Homo sapiens: one gene and its partner. The protein of the gene in region 1 purifies or fractionates together with the protein of each later gene. This does not show direct contact. Each region holds a gene or a part of one and is shown in the gene's direction. Other genes may lie near its edges.

Region 1 (3,756 bases):
AGGGAGTTATGGGGAATCAGATTTACTCTCCTGCTTGAAATAACCCAGGAAGAGGAAGGAGAAGGAGAAGGGAGGGGGAGGGGAAGGGGGAAGGAAGAAGAAGAAGAAAAGTAAACAGCAGTTCTTAAGACACTGGACATCTGTAGTGATGGACAGCAATCTCTCACCAAATGGGGAACAAATGCTGTGAACTCTGTGATTGTCCTAGCTTCCAGCCTTGAGAGAGCATCTGGGCTGTGGAGGAACCCAAATGGAGCCTGGAAGACTCCATGATTTGAGAAGACAGAGCCAAGTTGCAGGAAGACAAAATTGGGTTGAGTTTGCAAGAGAGAGTACTGGAGAAAAGAGCACTATGAAAGAGTCCCTCTTGAGTGTTCCTCAGACTCCTAATCAGCAAATGCATAGAAGGAAATTGCCCAAGGACCAGGGAAGAGCCATTTGAAAGGTTTAGAGGGAACCGTATCTAGTGCTCACACAGGGCTGAAAACAGTGCTTGTTACACCAGCTAGAATGGAAAGCTTCATGATTCACAGGGCATTGGGTAGAGTACTTAGAGGCATCTTGCCTCATTAGGACTAGAATAAATGGCGCACTGGTCCCAGCTAACACATCTTAAAAGTAAGACCAGAAAGGATCAAACTGTTTCCAAATCACTTATCTCCTAGAAGAAAACACAAGAATATTAATAGGAATACAGAAAGATCCAGAAACCAACAAGGTAAAATTCACAATGTCTCCCATCCAATTAGAGATTACTAGGTATGCAAAGAAGAAAAACAACCTATAACAAGGAGAAAAATAAAAACTAAATCACACCTGACATAAATGTTAGAATTAGCAGACAAAGACATAGTAGTTATTATGACTATACTCTTTAGTTAAAAAAGTTAAGTAGAGACATGGAAGATATTTGAAAAGATGCACATCAGACTTCTAGAGATGAAAACTATAGTGCTTATAGATGAAAAAATGCGCTAGATGGGATTAATGGCAGATTAGGCAATACAGAAAAAACGATTCATGAATTTGAAGATACAACAATAGAAATTATACAAAATGAAACGCAGGAAAATAATTTTAAGAAATAGTATTAGTGAACTGTGAGACCACATCAGATAGCCTAATGTACGTGCAGTTAAAATCTCTAAAGGAGAGAAGAAATTGGAAAAACTAATGGTCAAAAACTTTTCTAAAACTGTAGACACACACATTTAAGAAGCTCAGTGAACCCAAGCACAACTAAAATAAACTGTATACGAATTGATCAAAATTAATGATAAGTAGAAAAATTTTAAAGCAACCAGTGGGGAAAAAAAGACACATTAAATGCAGAGGAGCAATAATTATGAGAACCCATTTCTCATCAGACAGTCAACAGTGATCTGTAAAGATTTAGAAGTGGACAGTGAGCACTTAAAGAGCTGCTCAACATCATTAGGTATTAGGGAAATGCAAATCAAAATCATAATGAGATACTGCTTCACACCCACTGGGAAGGCTATCATAAAAAAAAGAATAACAAGTGTTGGCAAGGATGTGGCGATATTGGAAGCCTCATACATTGATGGTGGGAAACTAAAATGGCGCAAATGCTGTGGAAGATAGTTTGGCACTTAATTAAAAGGTAAACATTGAGGCCAGGCGTGGTGGCTCTTGCCTGTAATCCCAGCACTTTGGGAGGCCGAGGCGGGAGGATCACCTGAGGTCAGGAGTTCGAGACCAGCCTGGCCAACGTAGTGAAACCCTGTTTCTACTAAAAATACAAAAATTAGCTAGACTTGGTGCTAGGCACCTGTAATCCCAGCTACTCGGGAGGTGGAGGCAGGAGAATCGCTTGAACCCAGGAGGCAGAGGTTGCAGTGAGCCGAGATGGTGCCACTGGACTCCAGCCTGGGGGACAGAGTGAGACTCCATCTTAAAAAAAAAAAAAAAGTTAAACATTGAATTACCAATCTGACTCAGAAGTTCTACTCCTAGGTGTGTTTCCAAAAGAGTTGAAAACACACGCTTATATAAAAACTTGTATATGAACACACATAGCAGTATTATTGTTAATAACCGAAGAGTGAAAACAATCTACATATTCACTAACTGGTAAAGGGATGTACAAAATGTGGCATAGCCATTTAATAGAATACTGTTCCACAGTAAAAAGTATGACAGCTGATACTTGGCTACAACATGGATGAATCTTAAACATACTAAGTAAAAGAAGACATGCAATAAGAGCACATTTTGTTTAATTCTATTCATATAAAATGTCCAGAAAAGGCAAATGTAATTTATAGAGACAGATGTACATTAGTGGTTACCTGGGTTTGGAGGTGGGAATGGGAGTGACTACAGGTGGGTACAAGGATCTTTGCAGAGTGATGATAATGTTCTCAAAATGGATTTTGATAATGGCTGAACAACTGTACATTTACTAAAAAATCATTGAATTCTGTGCCTAATGAGTGAATTTTATGGTGTGTGTTATATCTCAGTACTGTTGTTTAACAAAAGCAATTGACTGTTTAAAACAAAAATAATGTGTTGTGAAGTTTATGATCTATAGAAGCAATATATATAACAAAAATAGTATGTAGCGCTGGGATGTAGGAGATGAAAGTACATCATTGCAAGGTTCTTACAGTATATGCCAAATATTATTTAAATGTAGACTGAGATAAGTTACACATTGTAAACTATAATCACTAAAAAAGACGTGTAACTAATAAGTCATTAATAGTGATGAAATGTTAAAAAATATATTAAATACAAAGGAATTTTTTTACCTTTTTTGTATGTATGTTTTTCTTCCAGGCTTTGGTTGGAGAGAAGGCTTGTTATCAATCCATCAGTAGCTATGGTGGTCAGATCTTTTATTTGGGGACAAAAGTAAGCTCTTTTACTCTGTGAGTTGGTATTTGTATGTATCAGGGTAGTTGAGGCTGAAGGAGATTGCTGGTAAAGAGGGCAGTATATTGCAAAGTGAATATTGGTCAGCAATTATCCTAAACCCTTTGTGGTTAGGTAGGCATGATTTTTAGTTAATTATTTTTTTCCTCTACTTTTAGACATATTCTTTACTTTTGTTTAGGTGCTGGCTAATAGGATGCTTATTTTCTTGATTCAGAGATGTGCTTTTGTAAGCTTCCTTCACGTTTATGTTTTTATGACCAGGCAGCTACCTAATCATGGATATTTGTCATGTACTTAAGATGGCTGTTAGCTTAGATCAGCTTAGGATGCTGATTAAAATGTATTGAGGTATTTGACTTAGAATAGAATTGTTGGAATAGGAACTTTCTGTACCTCAATTTATCTCAGTTTGTTCCTGTGCTTTTTAAAAAACATGGAGAAACATTTCTTCATTATTAAAATTTAACCAAAATATTGCCAAGTCAGTAGAGGGAAATGAGCTTGGGCTTTCCTTGCTTCTTGTCCATGGAATTAACTCCTTCTTGGACTGTAGACCTTTAAATAGACTTACTCTTTAATGTGAGTTCTAGGCCAGATGCGTTGCCTCACACCTGTAATCCCAGCACTTTGGAAGGTCTTGGCGGGCAGATCACATGAGGCTAAGAGTTCAAGACCAGCCTGGCCAACATGGCAAAACCTTGTCTCTAGTAAAAATACAAAAATTAGCCAGTTGTGGTGGCAGGTGCCTGTAATCTCAGCTACTCGAGAAGCTGAGGAATGAGAATCATTTGAACCCCGGAGGTGGAGGTTGCAGTAAGCCAAGATCCCGCTGCTGCACTCCAGCCTGGGCAA
Region 2 (3,756 bases), on another chromosome or scaffold:
AGGCGGAGGTTGCAGTGAGCCGAGATTGCGCCACTGCACTCCAGCCTGGGCAACAAAGCGAGAGTCCTTCTCAAAAAAATAAAATAAATAAACTATCTTCCCTGCTTGAGGCACTGCTCTCTTGTTTATTTCAGGAAAGACACAATGCTAAGACCGTGGGGGAGATCAAGCAGTTTGTTTCCCAGTTGCCCCACATGCAGGCAGCAAGGGGCTCGCTTGCAAACCATACCTCAATTGCAGAATTGATCAAAGATGTCACTAGTGAGTATCCTTTGTAATGATTGTTTCAGTCTGGGGCTACTTGCACATACAACGTTTGACACCTAGGTCATCAACACCACAATGCCTCTTCGGGAGAGTCAGCTCTGTCTTAATACCACGTGTTCTTCTCAGTGTTAATGAAGTATACATATGTTAATAGTTAAGGATATTCCAGGCGGGGCATGGTGGCTCATGCCTGTAATCCCAGCACTTCGGGAGGCCAAGACGGGCAGATCACTTGAGGTCAGGAGTTTGAGACCAGCCTGGCCAACATGATGAAACCCCATGTCTACTACAAATACAAAAATTAGCCAGGCACAGTGGTATGCATCTGTAGTCCCAGCTACCTGGGAGGCTGAGGCAGGAGAATTGCTTGAACCTGGAAGGCGGAGGTTGCAGTGAGCCGACATCACGCCACTGCACTCCAGCCTGGGTGACAGAGTGAGACTCCATCTCGAAAAACAAAACAAAAAGAATGTTCCATTTGTTGGCCAGGCATGATGGCTCACATCTGTAACCCCAGCACTTCGGGAGGCTGAGGCAGGCAGATCACTTGAGTCCAGGAATTGAAGACCAGCCTGGGCAACATGGCGAAACCCTGTCTCTACTAAAAATACAAAAATTAGCTGGGCATGGTGGCACATGCCTGTAGTTACAGCTACTCAGGAGGTTGAGGCATGAGAATCACATGAACCCTGGAGGCAAAGGTTACAGTGAGCTGAAATCACGCCACTGCACTCCAGCCTGGTTGAGCGAGACTCCATTAAAAAAAAAAAAGACTGGGCGAGGTGGCTCATGTCTGTAATCCCACCACTTTGGGAGGCCGAGGCAGGTGGATCGCCTGAGGTCAGGCATTCGAGACCAGCCTGGCCAACATAGTGGAACACCATCTGTACTAAAAATACAAAAATTAGCCAGGTGTGGTGGCGGGCACCTGTAATCCCAGCTACTCAGGAGACTGAGGCAGGAGAATTGCTTGAACCGGGAGGCAGAGGTTGCAGTGAGCCAAGATTGCACCACTGCACTCCGGCCTGGGCGACAGAGCAGGACTCCATCTCGAAATAACGAAAGAAAGAAAAAGAGAAAGAGAGGAAGGGTCCATTTTTTAACTCAAATTTTTTCATTATCATTTATATGAAAAATATTTGGAATGTAGATAAGAGAAAAAAATTATCCATAAGTTTGCCATCATAATCTGAGATGGTTAATTTTTTTAGTCTAGCTTTTTTTCTTTTTTTTTTTTTTTTGAGACGGAGTTTCACTCTTGTTGCCCAGGCTGCAGTGCAATGGCACAATCTTGGCTCACCGCAACCTCTGCCTCCCGGGTTCAAGTGATTCTCCTGCCTCAGCCTCCCAAGTAGCTGGGATTACAGGTACTTGCCACCACGCCTGGCTTATTTTCTATTTTTACTAGAGATGGTGTTTCACCATGTTGGTCAGGCTGGTCTCAAACTCCCAACCTCAGGTGATCCGCCTGCCTTGGCTCCCAAAGTGCTGGGATTACAGGCATGAGCCACCGCGGCCAGCAGCTTTTTTCCTTTTTTGAAGGATTACTTATTGGCGCATGTTCTTCCCTTGAATATTCTGTGCAGAATTGGTACAAAGAGTATATGTTGAGTATTTTGAAAGAGCTCAGAAGACATCTATTAAAGCAGACATGAGTTTGTTTGTTTGTTACAACACAGGGCTGTAAAAGCTGAGTAGGAGATTGTTTTATGAAGTATACTTCGAATCTTAAGTAAATCACAGTTATCGGAAAATCAGTCCTTTGTTTCCCTGTTCATAGGAGTGGAAACCAGTTGAAATTGGGTTGAACCTAATGATGAAAATGAAATGTTCTTGAGAAATTAGCTTTCATTCATACTGACGCTCATTCTGGGGTCTGTACTGAAATCCTAAGGATACAAAAGAGTGCACTTGTCGACTGTATCTAGTGTAACTTAGGAGTGCAGAGGCCTAGCGTTTTCCATGTTTCCTAAAAGATTTTCTTCAGGTGATGACTTGAACTTATTGCTTGCTTGCTTTTTTGCATGATGTCTGGTTTCTTTTCTTTTGAGACAGAGTCTCGCTCTGTTGCCCAGGCTGGAGAGCAATGGTGTGATCTTGGCTCACTGTAACCTCCGCCTCCCCGCCTCAAGTGATTCTTGTGCCTTAGCCTCCCGAGTAGCTGGGACTACGGGTGTGTGCCACCATACCCAGCTAATTTTTGTGTTTTTGGTAGAGATGGGGTTTGGCCATGTTGGTCAGGCTGGTCTTGAACTCCTGGCCTGAAGTGATCCACCCACCTCGGCCCCCTACAGTGCTGAGATTACAGGTGTGAGCCACCGTGCCCAGCCACATGTCTAGTTTCTGAATCGTGCTCTGTGTATAAAAGCATGCCACTCAAGTAAATTAACATTTAATTTCTAAGTTGCAAATTTGCTAATTTCATTTTAGCTTCTGAAGACTTTTTTGATAAATTAACCGTGGAACAGGAGTTTATGTCTGGAATAGACACTGATAAGGTATGTGGACAAAAAAACCTCTTTAACAAGTAATTGAAAGCTTATTAAACCTCAGATTATAGCCAGAAAACCAATTGCTTTGATTCCCATGCCTTGCCTTTTTTTTTTTTTTTTTTTTTTTTTTTTTTGAGACGGAGTCTCACTGTGTGTCACCCAGCTTGCTCTGTTGCCCAGGCTGGAGTGCAGTGGCGCCATCTCTGCTCACTGCAAGCTCCGCCTCCCGGGTTGACGCCATTCTGCCTCAGCCTCCCGAGTAGCTGGGACTACAGGCGCTCACCACCACACCTGGCTAATTTTTTGTATTTTTAATAGAGACGGGGTTTCACCATGTTAGCCAGGATGGTCTCGATCTCCGACCTTGTGATCCGCCCACCTTGGCCTCCCAAACTGTTGGGATTACAGGCGTGAGTCACTGCGCCCGGCCACTTAAATATTTTTAAGAGCAAATGCAAAATGTGCAAGTGTAGATTTTATCAAGTAACAGATATTTAACATTATTCTGTGCAAGACACTTTCTGCCATACATGGCAACATGAGACCTGGCCCCTAAAATCAAATCTTTTTAAGACTGTATTAGATAAGGTATTTGCTCTTTTGAAAGAGTTTCTTATATAACTCCTTTAAATAGCTCTATTAACAAATTTTAAATTATTCACTTTATGAAAATTCCTAACATAAAACAATTACTGATACTTTTTGCTAGATTAGTTGTTGATACTATTGAAATGGAGTAGACATCTGGTAGCCTCTCAGAAGCGTGTCCTTAGAGACAGACGTGTCCAGACAGGCATATGGAGTGACCAATTGTATTCTCAGCGGCCTTGGGCTCCAGTGACTTGGCCTGATCACTGGGGGGTGTGTGTGTGTGTGTGTGTGTGTGTATGTATGTATGTGTGTGTGGGGTGTGTGTGTGTGTGTGGTGGCCAGGGTGTGTGTGTGGCTGGGGCTAGCAGAGCTATTTCGGGGAAGGGTTAGGGACTGTGGAAAAATA

The links. Proteins that work in one complex are often made in the same cells at the same time.
Region 2: the proteins of VPS8 (region 1) and VPS33A purify together in Homo sapiens (affinity purification with mass spectrometry; 2 studies listed by BioGRID and IntAct, with this or other methods). This does not show direct contact.

The regions. Positions count from the first base shown.
Region 1 is NC_000003.12:184,864,071-184,867,826, forward strand, and holds part of VPS8 (vacuolar protein sorting-associated protein 8 homolog), read left to right. Parts: intron 1-2,805; coding exon 2,806-2,880; intron 2,881-3,756. UniProt on the Homo sapiens protein: Plays a role in vesicle-mediated protein trafficking of the endocytic membrane transport pathway.
Region 2 is NC_000012.12:122,238,887-122,242,642, reverse strand, and holds part of VPS33A (vacuolar protein sorting-associated protein 33A), read left to right. Parts: intron 1-134; coding exon 135-261; intron 262-2,697; coding exon 2,698-2,765; intron 2,766-3,756.